2 separate regions of the Homo sapiens genome follow, and region 2 is linked to region 1. The links come from fine-mapping of genetic effects on gene expression. Tissue or cell type: whole blood. Region 1 holds a variant in brackets; the other region holds the start of a gene. All regions are shown on one strand. Distances are from middle to middle.

Region 1 (8,106 bases):
AGCCATTGTGCCCAGCAATCCAAAATTTTTTGAGTGCGAAAAGGATTGCCGCAAGTGGAAAATTCCATGCCTGACCTCGTGTGACAGGTTGCTATCAAGACACAGTCAAAATGTTTTTAATGCACAAAAATATTAAAAATATGATGTAAAATTACCTTCAGACAATTAAAAATATTGTGTAAAATTACCTTCATATATAAGGTATATATGAAACAAGTGAATTTTGTGTTTAGAGTTGAGCCCCATCCCCAAGATAGCTCATATGTATCTGCAAATATTCTAGAATTAGAAAAAATCTGAAGTCCGAAACACTGCTGGTCCCAAGCATTTCAGATAAGGGATACTCACCCTGTAAGTAGTAGTAACAGTAATAGTGGTGATGAGAAGATTCTAGAGGAAAACCATTGGAAGTGCTGCCTGCTTTCTGGAGTTCTGGTCTGAGGGATGGAGAAACTTTGCCCATAGTTTGTTTTTGGAGTAGCTGAGGTGCACATTTGGTTTTTATTCTGTCCACATGGGATTTTTTTGTTTGTAAAAGTATTACATGTGCATTGGGAAAAAAATTCAAAAAATACAGAAAGGATTAAAGTAGTAAGTGAAAAGGTAAACCATTCCCCACAGAAAACCATTGATAACATTTGGCTATTTTTCTTTCTTTAGCCATAATTAGACTTTATCTAATTATATAGGATTAACATTTTTCTGTTTCAACAAATACAGATTCATGTGATCGTTTCTTAATGGCTACAAAGAATTCCATCATGTGTATGAAATACTTACATTCATGGATGCTTACGCTTTTTTCCAGTTTCTTTCTACTTTGGTACAGTGTTAAACACCCTACTTTGTACAGCTTTGCATATTTACTTCCTTAGAATAAATTCCTAGAAGTACACTTGTTGGGCCAAGGGACATACACAGTTAAAATTTGAATTCATACAGAATGCCAAATTGTCCCCCGCCCCAAGAAAAGCTATAGCAGATTGCACTATAAATGAGAGTATATGTGAATTTTTCTACACCTTGGCCAATACTGGGGATTACCCTTCTCTTAAGTCTTTGCCAATCTGCCATGTGAAAATAAAACCTTACTTTAGTGTTCACGTTTTGATTACTAATAAGGTTAACATCTTTGTATATTTGGAGTTGGGTCTTGTTCCTTTGCTAATGTCAGGCATCAGCAAGTTACTTGATACTTGATCTTAAGGAGAGGGGACTAGAATGAGTAACCTTCAGTGCCAGTAATTCATTTTCAATCCCATCCTCTCTTTTTTTCTTGCAGGAGTTAAGGGAGCATGGAGAAAAGAAGAAACGCTCGCGAGAGGATGCTGGAGATAATGATGACACAGAGGGTGCTATTGGTGTCAGGAACAAGGTGGCTGGAGGAAAAATGAAGAAGCGGAAAGGCCGTTAATCACTTTTATGAAGGCTCGAGTTCTGCTGTTCTGTAAAAGAGAATTGGAGAATGAAACCTGCTCCAACAGAGATCATGAGACTGAAATTGGTCAGAATTGTGTCCAGAATGTGCTCAGCTAATTCAGTATTCTTCCCCATTCTGGGTTGGAGTTTACTGCAGAGTAATTCTTACAGTGCTGATGTCAAGACTGTTACTGTTCTTCGACTTTGATTCCTTGCTCATGACATGAGTAGGGTGTGCTCTTCTGTCACTTCACACAGACCTTTTGCCTTTTTTAGCTGCAAGTCAAGGACTAGGTTGATGATGCCCATGACCTGTAATTGTAAAGAAGCTTGGACATCTGCAAATGATATTTAAACCATCTTGGCTTGTGCTTTATTCAAACTAATGTGAAACAATAAATTTAAATATTATTTTTAAAAGATTCTAACTCCTTAAAGACCTTGGTGTTAAAGGGCCTTATAGATTTAAGTAAGATCTTGTTAATAGGTAAGAACCTGACAGTGTTGATTACATGGCAAATTCATTGGTTGTCCTAATTAAGATAAATATTTATTACTTAAAAAAATCAACAAGGAAACGAGATGATGGATGGCTTTGAAAGGGAAGCCCCAGCCGGGTGTGGTGGCTCACGCCTGTAATCCCAGCACTTTGGGAGGCCAAGATGGGCAGATCAGGAGGTCAGGAGATTGAGACCATCCTTGGTAACACCGTGAAACCCTGTCTCTACTAAAAATACACACACAAAAAAAACATTAGCCTGGCGTGGTGGCGGGCGCCTGTAGTCCCAGCTACTCGGGAGGCTGAGGCAGGGGAATGGTGTGAACCCGGGAGGCAGAGCTTGCAGTGAACCTAGATCGCGCCATTGCACACTCCAGCCTGGGCAACAGCGAGACTCTGTCTCAAAAAAAAAGAGAAGTTCTACTTAAAAAAGGAGGTTGTGTTTTTCTTGCAGATGGAGCAAAGTCTATCAGTAAGACAGCAGAGGTCTTTAAAATCCCTAAATAGATTTACTTCCTTCATTCCCTCAATTAAGCAGGTGGTTAGGAAGACTGGTTTCTCACATAGACTCTTTTTTTTTTTTTTTTGAGATAATCTTGCTCTGTCATCCAGGGTGGAGTGCGGTGGTATGACCTCAGCTCAGTGCAGCCTTGACCTTCCAGGCTCAAGTGATCTCCCACCTCAGCCTCCTGAGTAGCTGGGACTACAGGCACATGCCATCACGCCTGGCTAATTTTTATATTTTTTGTAGAGATGGGATCTTGGCTTGTTACCCAGACTGGCCTTGAACTCCTGAGCTCAAGAGATCCATCTGCCTCGGCCTCCCAAAGTGTTGGGATTACAGGTGTGAGCCACTGCACCCGGCCTCTTTTTTTTTTTTTTTTTTTTTTTTTTTGAGATGGAGTCTTGCTCTGTTGCCAGGCTGGAGTGCAGTGGCACAGTCTTGGCTCACTGCAACCTCTGACTCCCTGGTTCAAGCGATTCTCCTGCCTCAGCCTCCCGAGTAGCTGGGATTACAGGCACTCACCATCATGCCCAGCTAATTTTTGTATTTTTGTAGAGATGGGGTTTTGACATGTTACCCAGACTGGCCTTGAACTCCTGAGCTCAAGAGATCCATCCACCTCAGCCTCCCAAAGTGTTGGGATTACAGGTGTAAGCCACTGTACCTGGCCTCTTTTTTTTGAGACAGAGTCTTGCTCTGTTGCCAGGCTGGAGTGCAGTGGTGCGACCTCAGCTCGCTGCAACCTCCAACTCCCTGGTTCAAACGATTCTCCTGCCTCAACCTCCCAAGTAGCTGGGATTACAGGCACGCACCACCATGCCCAGCTAATTTTTGTATTTTTAGTAGAGACAGGGTTTCATCATGTTGGCCAGGATGGTCTTGAACTCCCAAGCTCAGGTGATCCACCTGTCTCGGCCTCCCAAAGTGCTGGGATTACAGGTGTACGCTGCTGCACCCGGCCACTCTGCCTCTTATGTAGATTCTTTTCCCCAGGTGACAAGAATAAAATCAATATGCCTCAGAAATGTATAATTCTGAGACCTAATTTCATCCACTTGTCATTAGTGCCCACTGGCCACTCATCTTTTTTGTCCTCATCTATTAGGCGATGCAGGAGATGTAGAGCTGGGGCCTCAGCTCCAGGGGAGGAGGTAGGCATTGGCACTCTAGGGGCTGGTTGTTGGGGGAGGGTTACTGAAATTCAGAAACAACTTGGAAATTCCCAATCACAAACAGTCTCATGTTCTGAGGATGTTTACACATAGAAGATGCCTAATACTTTTTGTTGTCTATAACAGTTTTATTAGAAGAGTGTGTCTGGAGTGGCAGAACCAAGGTAAAGAGCGTCTAAATAATCACTTTGATGGATTAAGATTGGAATGAAGTTTGGCTGAAAAGAAACTTTCCTTATCCATCTAAGTCAGAGTATCTGGTGAGGAGTAAAGAGTAGGAGGCAGGCCGGGCGTGGTGGCTGACGCCTGTAATCCCAGCTCTTTGGGAGGCTGAGGAGGGCAGATCACGAGGTTAGATCGAGACCATCCTGGCTAAAACGGTGAAACCCTGTCTACTAAAAATACAAAAAATTAGCCGGGAGTGGTGGCGGGCGCCTGTAGCCCCAGCTACTCGGGAGGCTGAGGCAGGAGAATGGCGTGAACCCGGGAGGCGGAGCTTGCAGTGAGCCGAGATCGCGCCACTGCACTCCAGCCTGGGCGACAGAGAGAGACTCCGTCTCGAAAAAAAAAGAGTACAAGGCAATAAAATTCTCTGTGATGGTCCGGGGTGGACTGTTCACTGCAGGAAGATCTTTGCAAATATCGGGGCGGGGGGTTTTCTACCACAGATGCATTTTAAAATGGGCACCTGTGGGCAAGGCATTAGCAATGAATTGAAATACAGTGCATAACTTACTTTTTGTTTTGTTTGCTCTGAATTTCATTGCTGCTTATTATGGTACCTTTGTGTGAAGGATAATTTAGAGGAGGTAGGAGATACAAGGGAAAGGAAAGGAGAAAGGGGTACCAGAATCGGGAGGCAAATGGTTGAGC[A/G]GGGCCGTACCTGTTCCTATTTGTTATGAGTTGTGCCTCCCACTTGGGGCTAATTCTCCATTAACATTGTGTTTTCTCGATGGGACTCTCCAGGGTGGCTTAGGATAGCAGCTCTCTTCGAGTCAGCCCATGGATGCTGTTTCAGCTCAGTGGAGGACTTCAGAAGCAAGCTGAAATGGAATTGGTGTACCAGTAGGGGGTAAGAAGGAGAGATTGGAATCATCCTCAAGGATGTCTGAACTTTCCAAATAGGCAGTGGTCTCTGGCCTGGGTTTGTGGACCACTGAGGAATATGCATATTTTTGGGGAGACTAAAAAGGTTAAAAACCACTACTCGAAAGCTTAACTGCCATCTCTAATGTATATGCATAATTATGCTTTGCTAGGATGGGAAGAAAGGACACTAGTGAAAGAAATGTGGACGGGTGTGTCTTCAGGTATATTAACAGGTCCAGAGCATGGAGTCCCCAGCAGAAAATGCACAGATGCCATTGCAAAAGGCAGGAGGCGCAGAAATGAACGTGATCCACCAGTAAGTAAAAACAAGACATGTAGGTTTGCTCTATTAGTCAGTCATTCCTGTGCTCTCCTGTCCTCTAAGGTGAGATAGGTCGTGCTGCTGATACCCTTACAGAAGTACGTTTTAATGTCCTAGGACTACTGAAACAAAGTACCAGGAACTGGGTGACTTTCAATAACAACTTTATTCTCTCATGGTCCTGGATTTTAAGATGTTCAAAATTAAGGTGTGGGCAGGGCCATGTTCTCTCTGACACCTTTAGAGAAGAGTCCTTCCTGGCTTCTTAGCCAGCATTGCCCCTTGGTTGCCTGCAGTCCTTGGTGTTTCTTGGCTGTAGCAACATGACTCCGATCCCTGTCTCCATCCACACATGGCCTTCTGCCCCATATATCTTTGTGTCTTCACAAGGCCTTCTTAGAAGGATACTAGTTGTTGGATTTAGGGTGCACCCTAATCCACCCTGGCCTCATCTTAACTAATTACATCTGCGAGGATCCTATTTCCAAATAAGGTCACCTGAGGTTCTGGGTTGATATGGTTTGGCTGTGTCCCCACCCCAATCTCATCTTGAATTGTACTCTCAGAATTCCCACGTGTTGTGGGAGGGACCCGGTGGGAGGTAATTGAATCCTGGAGGCGGTTTCCCCCATACTGTTCTCATGGTAGTGAATTAGTCTCACAAGATCTGATGGTTTTATAAGGGGTTTCCCCTTTTGCTTGGCTCTCATTCTCTCTTCCCTGCCACCGTGTAAGACGTGCCTTTCACCTTACACCATGATTGTGAGGCCTCCCCAGCCACGTGGAACTGTGAATCCATTAAACCTCTTTTTCTTTGTAAATTACCCAGTCTCAGGTATGTCTTTATCAGCAGCATGAAAACAGATTAATACATGGGTAGACATGACTTTTCGTGGGATACTATTCAGCCCAGTACAAGGCATCTTTGTGGACTCTGCTACATTCTGCGGGGTTTAAGGTTGCAATTACGGAATAAAATGGTGGGGAGAACTAGTTACAAAGTGTGGAGAAGACAGGAGATGGGTCTTCAGAAGTATTTGGTTAGGTATTAATAGGAGTATAGAAGAACGTTAAAATGTCATTCTCTTAAATACATGTAAATTGCCTTTGCAGTCAAGATACCAAAAGCTCTAGATTAGGAGTGGGGAACGAGGTCCCTGACCCCTCTGCTATTCCCTTCTTGGTACAACTCCTTAGTTCTGCATTCCTGATTTAAGAAACTGTGAGCTTCGCCGGCCGGGCGCGGTGGCTCACGCCTCTAATCCCAGCACTTTGGGAGGCCGAGGCGGGCGGATCACAAGGTCAGGAGATTGAGACCATCCTGGCTAACACGGTGAAACCCTGTCTCTACTAAAAATACAAAAAAATTAGCCAGGCGTGTTGGCGGGCGCCTGTAGTCCCAGCTGCTGGGGAGGCTGAGGCAGGAGAATGGCGTGAACCCGGAAGGCAGAGCTTGCGGTAAGCCGAGATCGCACCACTGCACTCCAGCGTGGGCGACAGAGCGAGACTCCATCTCAAAAAAAAAAAAAAAGAAACTGTGAGCTTCAAAACAATCTTCTCCCACCCTAATTGTAAACAGATACATCTAACTTTTATGACTTAATAAAGGGAGTATCTTGGAATAGTCATATGATATCAGCCCAGAGAAAATGTCTTCTTATTTCTCATCTGAATTATAAAACTGATTTATATAGTATTCATTGTATGCAGTTGCAGTAACAATGGCTTCATGGTACTGGCTAGCCTAGTTTTACTTCCTCTGTACAGAGCTGAGTGAGGGTGAGAATGAGGAAAACACCTCTCTATCTTATGAAGGGGTCCTAGGATCCTAGTGAGAGGGTTTCAGTTGGATAGGCTATTTCAGGCTTAAAGCAGGCCCAGAATTCCAGGGAACCATGAAGCAGGTTCTCTGAGGGCACTCTGAGGGGATTGTAGTTGCTAAGAGGGGCCTAGACCAACTAGATCATGATTATTCTTTCTCAGTCTCTCAAAAAATGCAATGAATATCCCAGAACTTGGCTGGCTCTTTAAGGACATCTTGCTTACAGACAGAGTGTTTTCCAAGTAGCTTTCTGCCTGCAGAGGCATCCACAAACCTAAATTGGAGACTTTATCTACCTTGGGTCCCTCAAAACCCTGGGAAATAGGACCAGAAAGAACCACAGGCTGTGGTGTTGGTTACAGAAAATGAAAGGATCCAAGTTATCAAAAGTGGGTAACAAAGCAACATCAAGAAACTGTGTCCTTAAAACTAAGAGAATATACAAGACATTCTAATCCACATGGTTCTTAGGGTGAAATCTAGCCTCTGGGCAGGTAAGAAATCAGGGTGTGAGTCACCCCTCTTTAGCTGGAATGACAAGAGACTCAGACCATAACTCTAGAGATTGAAGGGTTACCCACACCCGCATTCCTTTTCATGCCTCACCTATCCCAGGTATGCACTAAAACTACCGCTAAAAATAACTGCAGAAACTTGAAGTCTGGGAAATAGCACTGAACAGTCTCACCTGAAGTGAAGAGCTGATTGGTGCCAAGTGGAAAGGAGACAGGAAGAAAATGGGCTCCTCTGGAACCATGCAGTCTCTAGGAGGTGGGCCCCAAGGTCTGCTCAGAGTCTTGGAGCTTTTGTTTGCTCGTAGCCATCCATCCCCTTATACCATCCAAACACAAAGGATGTCTCCTGTCACTGTCACCCTTCAATCATCTGCCAGTGCCGTCAAAGAGGCCGGAAGGAGCAGGAGGAATTGGGAAAGGAACAGGTGGGGAAAGTGTAAGTCATCGGACTGTTCACTGTTGCTGTGTGACCTTGTGGGAGTTACTAAACCTCTCTGAACCTTGAGTTTTCTCATTTGTTAATATGGAAAGAAGACCGTCAAGCCTATCTCTGTCACAGAATCTTTTTTTTTTTTTTTTTTGAGATGGAGTCTCTGTCACCCAGGCTGAAGTGCAATGGTGCAATCTTGGCTCACTGCAACCTCCACCTCCCAGATTCAAGCAATTCTCCCACCTCAGCCTCCCAAGTAGCTGGAATTACAGGCATGTGCCACCATGCCGGGCTAATTTTTGTATTTTTAATAGAGGCAGGGTGCCATGTTTG
Region 2 (8,098 bases), 46 kb before region 1:
CCTGGCTGCAGGTAGGAATCACCTGTATTCTCCCAGATCCCACTCCAGACCTCTTGAATTAGACTCTCCAGGGCTGGGGCCTGAAGATTCCTATGCTTAAAAAGCTCTTTCTCGTCCTTCCTACACTGAATTTCCTCATGGTTCGAGGACTCAGAATTCAAACTAGTACAGCTAATGCCGCGGTTCAGCTGCATCAAGAGTTTAACACAGTGACAACTTGTCTCTACAAAAAGTCAAAAAATAAGGCAGGAGGATTGCTTGATCTCAGGAGGTCAAGGCTGCGGTGAGGCGTGATGGTGCCATTGCACTCCCACTTGAGTGACAGAGTGAGACCCTGCCTCAACAAAACAAAACAAAACAAAAAAAGAGTTGAACAGATCTGAAGGCTAGTTTGAAGGCCAACTACCATTTTCAGTGTAGTCTCTCTAGGGTGATGTGTTGGAAGTGCCCAACAAACAATTTAAAAGAGAAGTCTGAGGATGTGGTCCACAGATTTTTTTTTGTGGAAACTGACCACACAGAACTTTTGAACAAAATGCCTTCATTTGTTCCTAAAATTTGTTATTGTGTCTTTACTATATGAAATTAAACAAATGCTGGCTGGGCATGGTGGCTCATGCCTGTAATCCCAGCACTTTGGGAGGCTGGGGCAGGTGGATCACCCGGGGTCAGGAGTTCGAGACCAGCCTGTCCAACATGGCGAAACCCCGTCTCTACTAAAAATACAAAAATTAGCCAGGTGTAGTGGTGCACGCCTGTAATCCCAGCTTCTCGGGAGGCTGAGGCAGGAGAATTGCTTGAATCTGGGAGGCGGAGATTGCAGTGAGCTGAGATCATGCCACTGTACTCTAGCCTGGGCGACAGACTGAGACGCCGTCTCAAAAATAAATAAATAAATAAAAGTAAACAAATGCTGAATTGAATCGCTAAGTTCAAGTGTCAGTTCTTATAAACAAGGTGAAGTACCAGTTGGGTTTTTTGTTTGTTTGTTTGTTTGTTTTTGGAGACAGAGTTTTACTCCGTTACCCAGGCTGGAGTGCAGCGGTGTGATCTCGGCTCACTGCAACTGCTGCCTCCCAGGTTCAAGTGATCCTCCTGCCTCAGTCTCCTGAGTAGCTGGGACTACAGGAGCACGCCACCACACACAGCTGTTTTTTTTGTATTTTTAGTAGAGACGGGGTCTTACCATGTTGGTCAGGCTGGTCTCGAACTCCTGACCTCAGGTGATCCACCAGCCTTAGCCTCCCAAAGTGCTGGGATTACAGGGGTGAGCCACTGCACCCGGCCCCAGTTGGTTTTTTTTTGTTTTTTTTTTTTTTGCTTTTTTTTTGAGACAAGGTCTCTATCATCCAGGCTGTGTTGCAGTGGTACCATTATAGCTCACTGCAGCCTTGACCTCCTGGGTGCAAGTGATCCTCCTGCCTCAGCGTCCTGAATAGCTAGGACTACAGGTGTGAGTCACTATGCCCGGCCAATTTTTAAATTTTTTGTAAAGATGGGGTCTCATTATGTCAACCAGGCTGGTCTCGAACTCCTGACTTCAAGCGACCCTCCCTCCTCTGCCTCCCAAAGTGCTGGGATTATAGGCATGGGCCACCATGACTGGCCAAAGTACCAGGTTTTTATGGGCAGTAAAACTTTAGCCCAAACTGTCAATTAACTCAATTTTTTTTGCCTCCATAAAGAGGCAAATACAAAGAAAATGGGCTTTCAACACAGAGAAAAACAAATTCCAAGATATGGGCTGAGGTCAGTATACACGCTGTCTATTTTCCTCTACCTTCTGGTTCTTCATCCCACCTCTGTACTATGATATTGATGCTCTGAGGAAGACCCTGTATCCCAGCAATATTCCTCATCTATAAAATAAAGATTTAATTGTGTTCCTCTAAACCCAAAACACACAGGATGATGTCCAGGGAAGTTAGAGGAACATGTGTCAGCTGAAGAATCAGTGGTATGTTCCCTCTTGTCTACCTCCCCAATTCGCGCTGGCCCACATCCCATTTGGAGTGACCATGTCTATGGAGATAGAGGAGGATATTCTTCCACTTCTAACCTCAAAAGGACACACTGGAGGCATCTAGATTGAGGTTACAGCTATCCTTTGAGGAGCTGTAACAAGAATATTTGGAAGTGGACCAAATCTAGAATAATCAAGTTTGAAAGGACTATGGTTGTCCTTTCTGTTGCTACTGTTGTTATACTGTGTTGATAAATACAAAGTATAGTCATAAAGGTGGGGGATTTAATCATGTTCCAGAATGATACGGCTGTTAAGGCTTTCCAGGTAAGCCAGAGAGTTGAGATAATCCTTATTCAAGTGAGAAACGAATTTGGCCCTCCTTATCTGGAGGAGAGGGTTAGAAGGACGATGGATGGATTTGGGGACATGTAGTAGGACTGAATTCCTAGGCTGAGCTCCAACCACCTCTGAATGCCCCAGAGATATCTATGTTCCATCTGGTCTGGTCTGCAGCAAGTCCACAGAAGCTACATTCACTTTTCTGTGCTGAATTATCAAAATAATTGCCCTTCAGCCCATGCCTCATGACCCTGTAGACAGAATCCACTCATTTCCCTATCACATGGGCTACAATTGCTACTTCAAATGAAAACCTGGGAAGCCAATGCCCTATTGTGGTTGAAAGTGTACAATTAGCTCCTCATGCAGCCTGACCCCACTGATTTTTCTGATGCATGTGACCTGGAGTGTGCCCTTTCTGAGACCGCCAATGTCTTCTCCACAGCTGGAGATGCCCAAAACTGCACGCAGCACTTCCTGTGGGTGTGGCCTTGCATTCTTAGGACTGCAGGGTACCCGCTGCATGCCAAATGATCCCAGGCTCCAGCCACTCACAGATTCACAACGCTTTTAAAAATACAGCAGTGGAGTATGAGCGGCTATGTCAGATATGAGGGTTTTCCACCCCCTCCCTTTTCTTTTAAAATATGATTTTGTAATGGTGGCCTCAAGAAACACTATAATTGGTCAGCCTGGGGTGCGTTTGAAGGCCTTCTCTATCGCGTCATTAGCTATTCTCAGGAAAGGCAGGGTATCCCACTGGGAGAATGACAACACACTTGTTTCAAGTTAGGGAAGAGCCTGTGGTTCTCTTCCTGCGTTCAGGGGAAAGCGAACACACAATGTTCGTTTCCTAAATACGGGATGTGCTGTGCTGGCAGGTCATTTTCCACCATGTCACGTCCTTCTAGATGAAGGCAGCAGGGGTCATGACAGGAAATGGCAAATTCTCAGAATGAGACAAGGCTTTCCCAGGGCAGCCATTGGTTCTCTGGAACTATAAAGCACACTCATCCAGAAACAGCCTCAGATTTTACTTTCCTGGAGGCAGACAGAAGTGAATGGTAAGTGGGGAACCCTGAGGCATATATTCGGGATGACTTTTTCTCATTTTCTCTTTTCACCTGGAAAATTATCCCTGGTGGGTTGGATTATGGAAGCATGGAAGTAAAATTAAGTCCTGTGAATAAGGAGATGAGGATTCTAGACTGGGCTCTGTGAAGAATCAGCTGCTTCTAGAATCTGATGTCTGATGCAGGCAATTCTTCCAGATGAGAATGATTTCTGCCCTGATAGCTCAGTTTTGAAATGCTCTATTTCTATGGCTCATTTGCCACTTTTAAGAAGTTCCTAATAATGAAGAGTACAGTGGACATGAAGGTGGGAATCTGCAACTAGGATGAATATACTTTTCCCCCAAGATGTACAACTTGTTCGTATCTTTGTCAGTCATCTTCAGTTGGCTTCAACGTGGTAGAAGTTGTTGAACAAAAATTTTGGCCACTTTATTTTATTCAACCATTACTCATTTTTAAAAGAAAACTTTCATAACAAAGAGACATAATGGTATTAATTTAATGTGACTTAGTTTAAATCAAGCACCCAGCAAAGACTGATGTTTCTGAAGATCCAAGGAGCCCTAGTTAGAATAAACAGTGCAAATCTCATTTTAGGCTTGATTCTAAGAAAAGAGCCTGGAAGAATCACAAGCAGAAGAGTTGCTTCAGGCAAGCATCTAACTTAGATGTTTCTTCTGCTTGGTAGAAAATACGATTTTTGAGGTTTTGGTGAAGTCTTTTTCATTCATTAGAGAGAGAGAAAAGTGTGTTGCAAAACTCCTAGGATCCAATTTTCACATGATGAAAGGGCTTTGTAAACTGTACAACCCACCACTTACAAAGTGTTATCTTAAGTAGAGCAAAGGCCTCAGTACTGGAGAAGCCTTCTAATACCACGCCCCTCCCAGTTTAAATCTTATTTAACACATAGCTGATGAAGCCCATCGTTAACGTTCCCTGGGAGAGAAGCAGAAGATAGCATTATTCCTATTTCCATATGCAGAGATAAGGTCCTGAGAACTTGTGTGGCTCCCCCCGGATTCCAGAACAGGTCTTTGAGAACTCGTCTCATGATCCACTGGAAACAGACCCGTTCCCCTAGCGTGGCAGTGGCTGCTCCGCTGAACTCGTGCCAAGTTCCCGCTGGCGTCCGGGCAGCAGGGCGGGAGCGGCGGCTGGCACGGAGACTCCAGGCTGACCGCGTGTCTATGTCCCCGCAGGGAATGGAGAGGCCGGCGGCCCGGGAGCCGCATGGGCCCGACGCGCTGCGGCGCTTCCAGGGACTGCTGCTGGACCGCCGAGGCCGGCTGCACGGCCAGGTGCTGCGCCTGCGCGAGGTGGCCCGGCGCCTGGAGCGCCTGCGCAGGCGCTCCCTCGTAGCCAACGTGGCCGGCAGCTCGCTGAGCGCAACGGGCGCCCTCGCCGCCATCGTGGGGCTCTCGCTCAGCCCGGTCACCCTGGGGACCTCGCTGCTGGTGTCGGCCGTGGGGCTGGGGGTGGCCACAGCCGGAGGGGCCGTCACCATCACGTCCGATCTCTCGCTGATCTTCTGCAACTCCCGGGAGCTGCGGAGGGTGCAGGAGATCGCGGCCACCTGCCAGGACCAGATGCGAGAGATCCTGAGCTGCCTCGAGTTTTTCTGCCGCTGGCAGGGCTGCGGGGACCGCCAGCTGCTGCAGTGCGGGAGGAACGCCTCCATCGCCCTGTACAATTCTGTCTACTTCATCGTCTTCTTTGGCTCACGTGGCTTCCTCATCCCCAGGCGGGCGGAGGGGGACACCAAGGTTAGCCAGGCCGTGCTGAAGGCCAAGATTCAGAAACTGGCCGAGAGCCTGGAGTCCTGCACCGGGGCTCTGGACGAACTCAGCGAGCAGCTGGAGTCTCGGGTTCAGCTCTGCACCAAGTCCAGTCGTGGCCACGACCTCAAGATCTCTGCTGACCAGCGTGCAGGGCTGTTTTTCTGAGAACATCCTTTCCCCCTAATGACCGAGGCCAGCAAATCATCCTCATGGGATGCTCCAGAATTTGTAGCTCCCTTAGGAAAACACCAAGCTGGGTTAGGAGCCGAAGGCAAAGGATGAGAAAAACTGTTTTTGAAGTGGGCAGGTCCCCAAAGCCCTTCTTTTCCCATCACTGTGACATCTGCCTGGGCTTGAGTGCTACGGACTTTTCAGTCTTCCTAGTGGAAAAATGTGACCCAAAAACTCTTTTTCCTTTATCAAAAACTTTCTGTCTAAACACAGCTGGGCAGGCACTCCTGTTTTAAAGTTATTTCGGGGTCCCTGACCCTGCCCTGGTGGCTTGGCCTGAGACTGGAGAGAGTGCCATCCTCTGGGTCCTCTCCAAGTCCTACTAGTCTTTGAAGTCCTCAAAATGTGCGTGAGGAAGGCGTTTGCCTCTATTCCAGAATTTCTGATACAAAGAACTCCAGAATCCAGAGCAAATCAGCCCTTCTCTGAACGTTGTAGGATGGTTCAGAACCCAGAGAGGACCCTGGTGCTGATATCTCCTCCTCTTCCCTTTCCCCTCAGCTTACTTACTCCCAGATGCGGCCTGGGTATGAAGTAGGCCTTTCCTGAGTGGCTCCCAATCCAGTCCTCCAAGTACTCAGAGGGGAAGCCCGTGAAGCCGTCATCTAAGTCCTGCTCCCTCACATGAAGCTGAGGGCCAGATAGATGGAGCGACTGCCAACTTCATTTCCCGACATCATTGTGTTCAGAAGAGAGTGATGGGTTTTGAGTTAGACAGTCCTGGGCTTGAGACAGGCTTTGTCACTACTGTGTGAGTGTAGCCACCTAATCTCTCTGAGACTGTGTAAAACAAAGATGATAAAATCTCACCCTGTTGTGAGATATTAAATGAGCCAAAGTGCCTAGCATGATGGTGCTGGCTCATATAGTGTAGTCCCTGGAATGGCAAATTAACATCACCCAGGAACTTGTTAGAAAGGCAAATTCTTGGACACAACCCTCCTGATTTATGGAATCAGAAACTCTGGCTGTGGGGCCCAGCAACCTGAGTTTAAACAATTTCTCTGGGTGGTTCTGCGGCACACTAAGGTTTGAAAATCACTGCAACAAATGCTAACTTCTAATCCCCTTGATGAGCTTTCACGAAGTCTCACGGCTTCTCTAGGGACTCCATGGTCTTCAGAGTCGTTCACAGATGACCAAGGACAGACTGTGTCCCAGAAGCCAAAATGAGAGAGAGAGAGAGAGAGCACGCGTACGTGCACCCTGGGGCAGTGTCTCACCGTATGAACAAGGGATGTAACACTAAAAGCCCATTAGGGGGCAGTGTTTCCCGCCTGTTGTAGAAACTGGTACAGAAAGGAATATGAAGTTCCTGAAACTGACCTTTGTCTATTATTACCTTCTCTGAAAAGTGCCAGTCCATGTATTTTTTATTTATTTTAAGTTTGTAATTTAATTTTTAATTATTGTTTAGTGTTTGCATTTAATTTTATTTAATCACCACATTTAGAAAATAATAAGAGCAAGTTTCTAAATGGGAGACTGCTGAGGCTCTTTGCAAGAGATGAGATTAAGTTTGAGTTTCTAAGGCAGGGCATGAGCTGGAAATAGCATTGCTTTCCTTGATTGTCTCTCTCCTTCAGGGAGATTCTTTTTCTCTAGTGTTTTAAGTGATCCTTTGAAGTAAGTGTGGAGAGTCTTGAATGGCAAGACCAGGAGCTGAGTTTAAGCTTGTAATGGAAGCTTGCATTGTGGGATATATAACTGAGGAAGCATATTTATCCTGAAGGTATTTTGCCAGAAGGTATCACTTGACCTGGAAAAGGAATCTATTTAGTTCAGGAAAGATAAAAAGTTTAGAGGTATGTGAAGGAAGCACTTAGAACTTGCAAGCCTGATGTCCTATCAAGTTATGTCTTCTGGGTGACAGACAAAATCGCTTGTCTTATGGTGGTGATGTGTTGCATTTTCACTTTGGGGTCTGTAAGAAACTGTCAGTGAAAATATGTACAATTCCTTCAATTTCCATTCTTAACAACTGTAATGTTGAAAAATAAGTTGAAAAGTCTTTGGGACCATACATGCAAAAACGGTGCCTCTGTTACTTAATTATTTAATATTCTATAAATGTACCCAATCTGTCCGCACCCTTCCCAGTGATGGGGCAGTATGTCTGAGGAAGTATAATTTCAGTACTGGGGTCGGGGAGAGGAGGTGATGTTTCTACATTTTTATTTTTTCTATAAATTGCAATTGGTCTGTATGCTGGTTTATTTTGAAATTTATATTGGTTTCTTTTCAAGCTGGTGTCATCTCCTAGACTGTTTCACCCAGATGCTAGCATTTTTTTTTTTTTTTTGAGACAGAGTCTCACTCTGTCACCTAGGCTGGAGTTGCAGTGGTTTGATCTCGGCTCACTGCAACCTCCGACTCCTGGGTTCAAGCAATTCTTCTGCCTCAGCCTCCTGAGTAGCTGGGATTACAGATGTGCACCAGCACACCCGGCTAATTTTTTGTATTTTTAGTAGAGACAGGGTTTCGCCATGTTGGCCAGGCTGGTCTTGAACTCCTGGCCTTATGTGATCCGCCCACCTTGGCTTCCCAAAGTGCTGGGATTACAGGCATGAGCCACCTCGCCTGGCCAGATGCTAGCATTTTAGATCAAACAATTCATTTTAGATGAATTGTTTTGTTTCACAATCATTTTAAATCATTTTAGAATGTACTTCACATTATTAGTTGTGTTATGGCATAAAGGTACA

What was found. PIP is the estimated chance that this variant, and not a neighbour inherited with it, causes the effect.
Region 2: it holds the start of APOLD1, and the variant in region 1 is fine-mapped to the expression of APOLD1 in whole blood (TOPMed, PIP above 0.99).

Annotation. Positions count from the first base shown.
Region 1 is chr12:12,828,141-12,836,246 of GRCh38, forward strand. It overlaps DDX47 (DEAD-box helicase 47), which reads left to right. Exons shown (of 12, transcript NM_016355.4): 12 at 1,283-1,841. The coding sequence ends at 1,414. Among named protein-coding and RNA genes, the nearest start is that of DDX47, 19 kb to the left of the region's middle. RefSeq lists an enhancer at 6,747-7,946. The variant A/G (reference allele first, on the strand shown) is at 4,469.
Region 2 is chr12:12,782,326-12,790,423 of GRCh38, forward strand. It overlaps APOLD1 (apolipoprotein L domain containing 1), which reads left to right and starts at 3,334. Exons shown (of 2, transcript NM_030817.3): 1 at 3,334-3,369; 2 at 4,584-8,098. The coding sequence starts at 3,367. The coding sequence ends at 5,327. RefSeq lists silencers at 4,621-4,720, 4,751-4,860.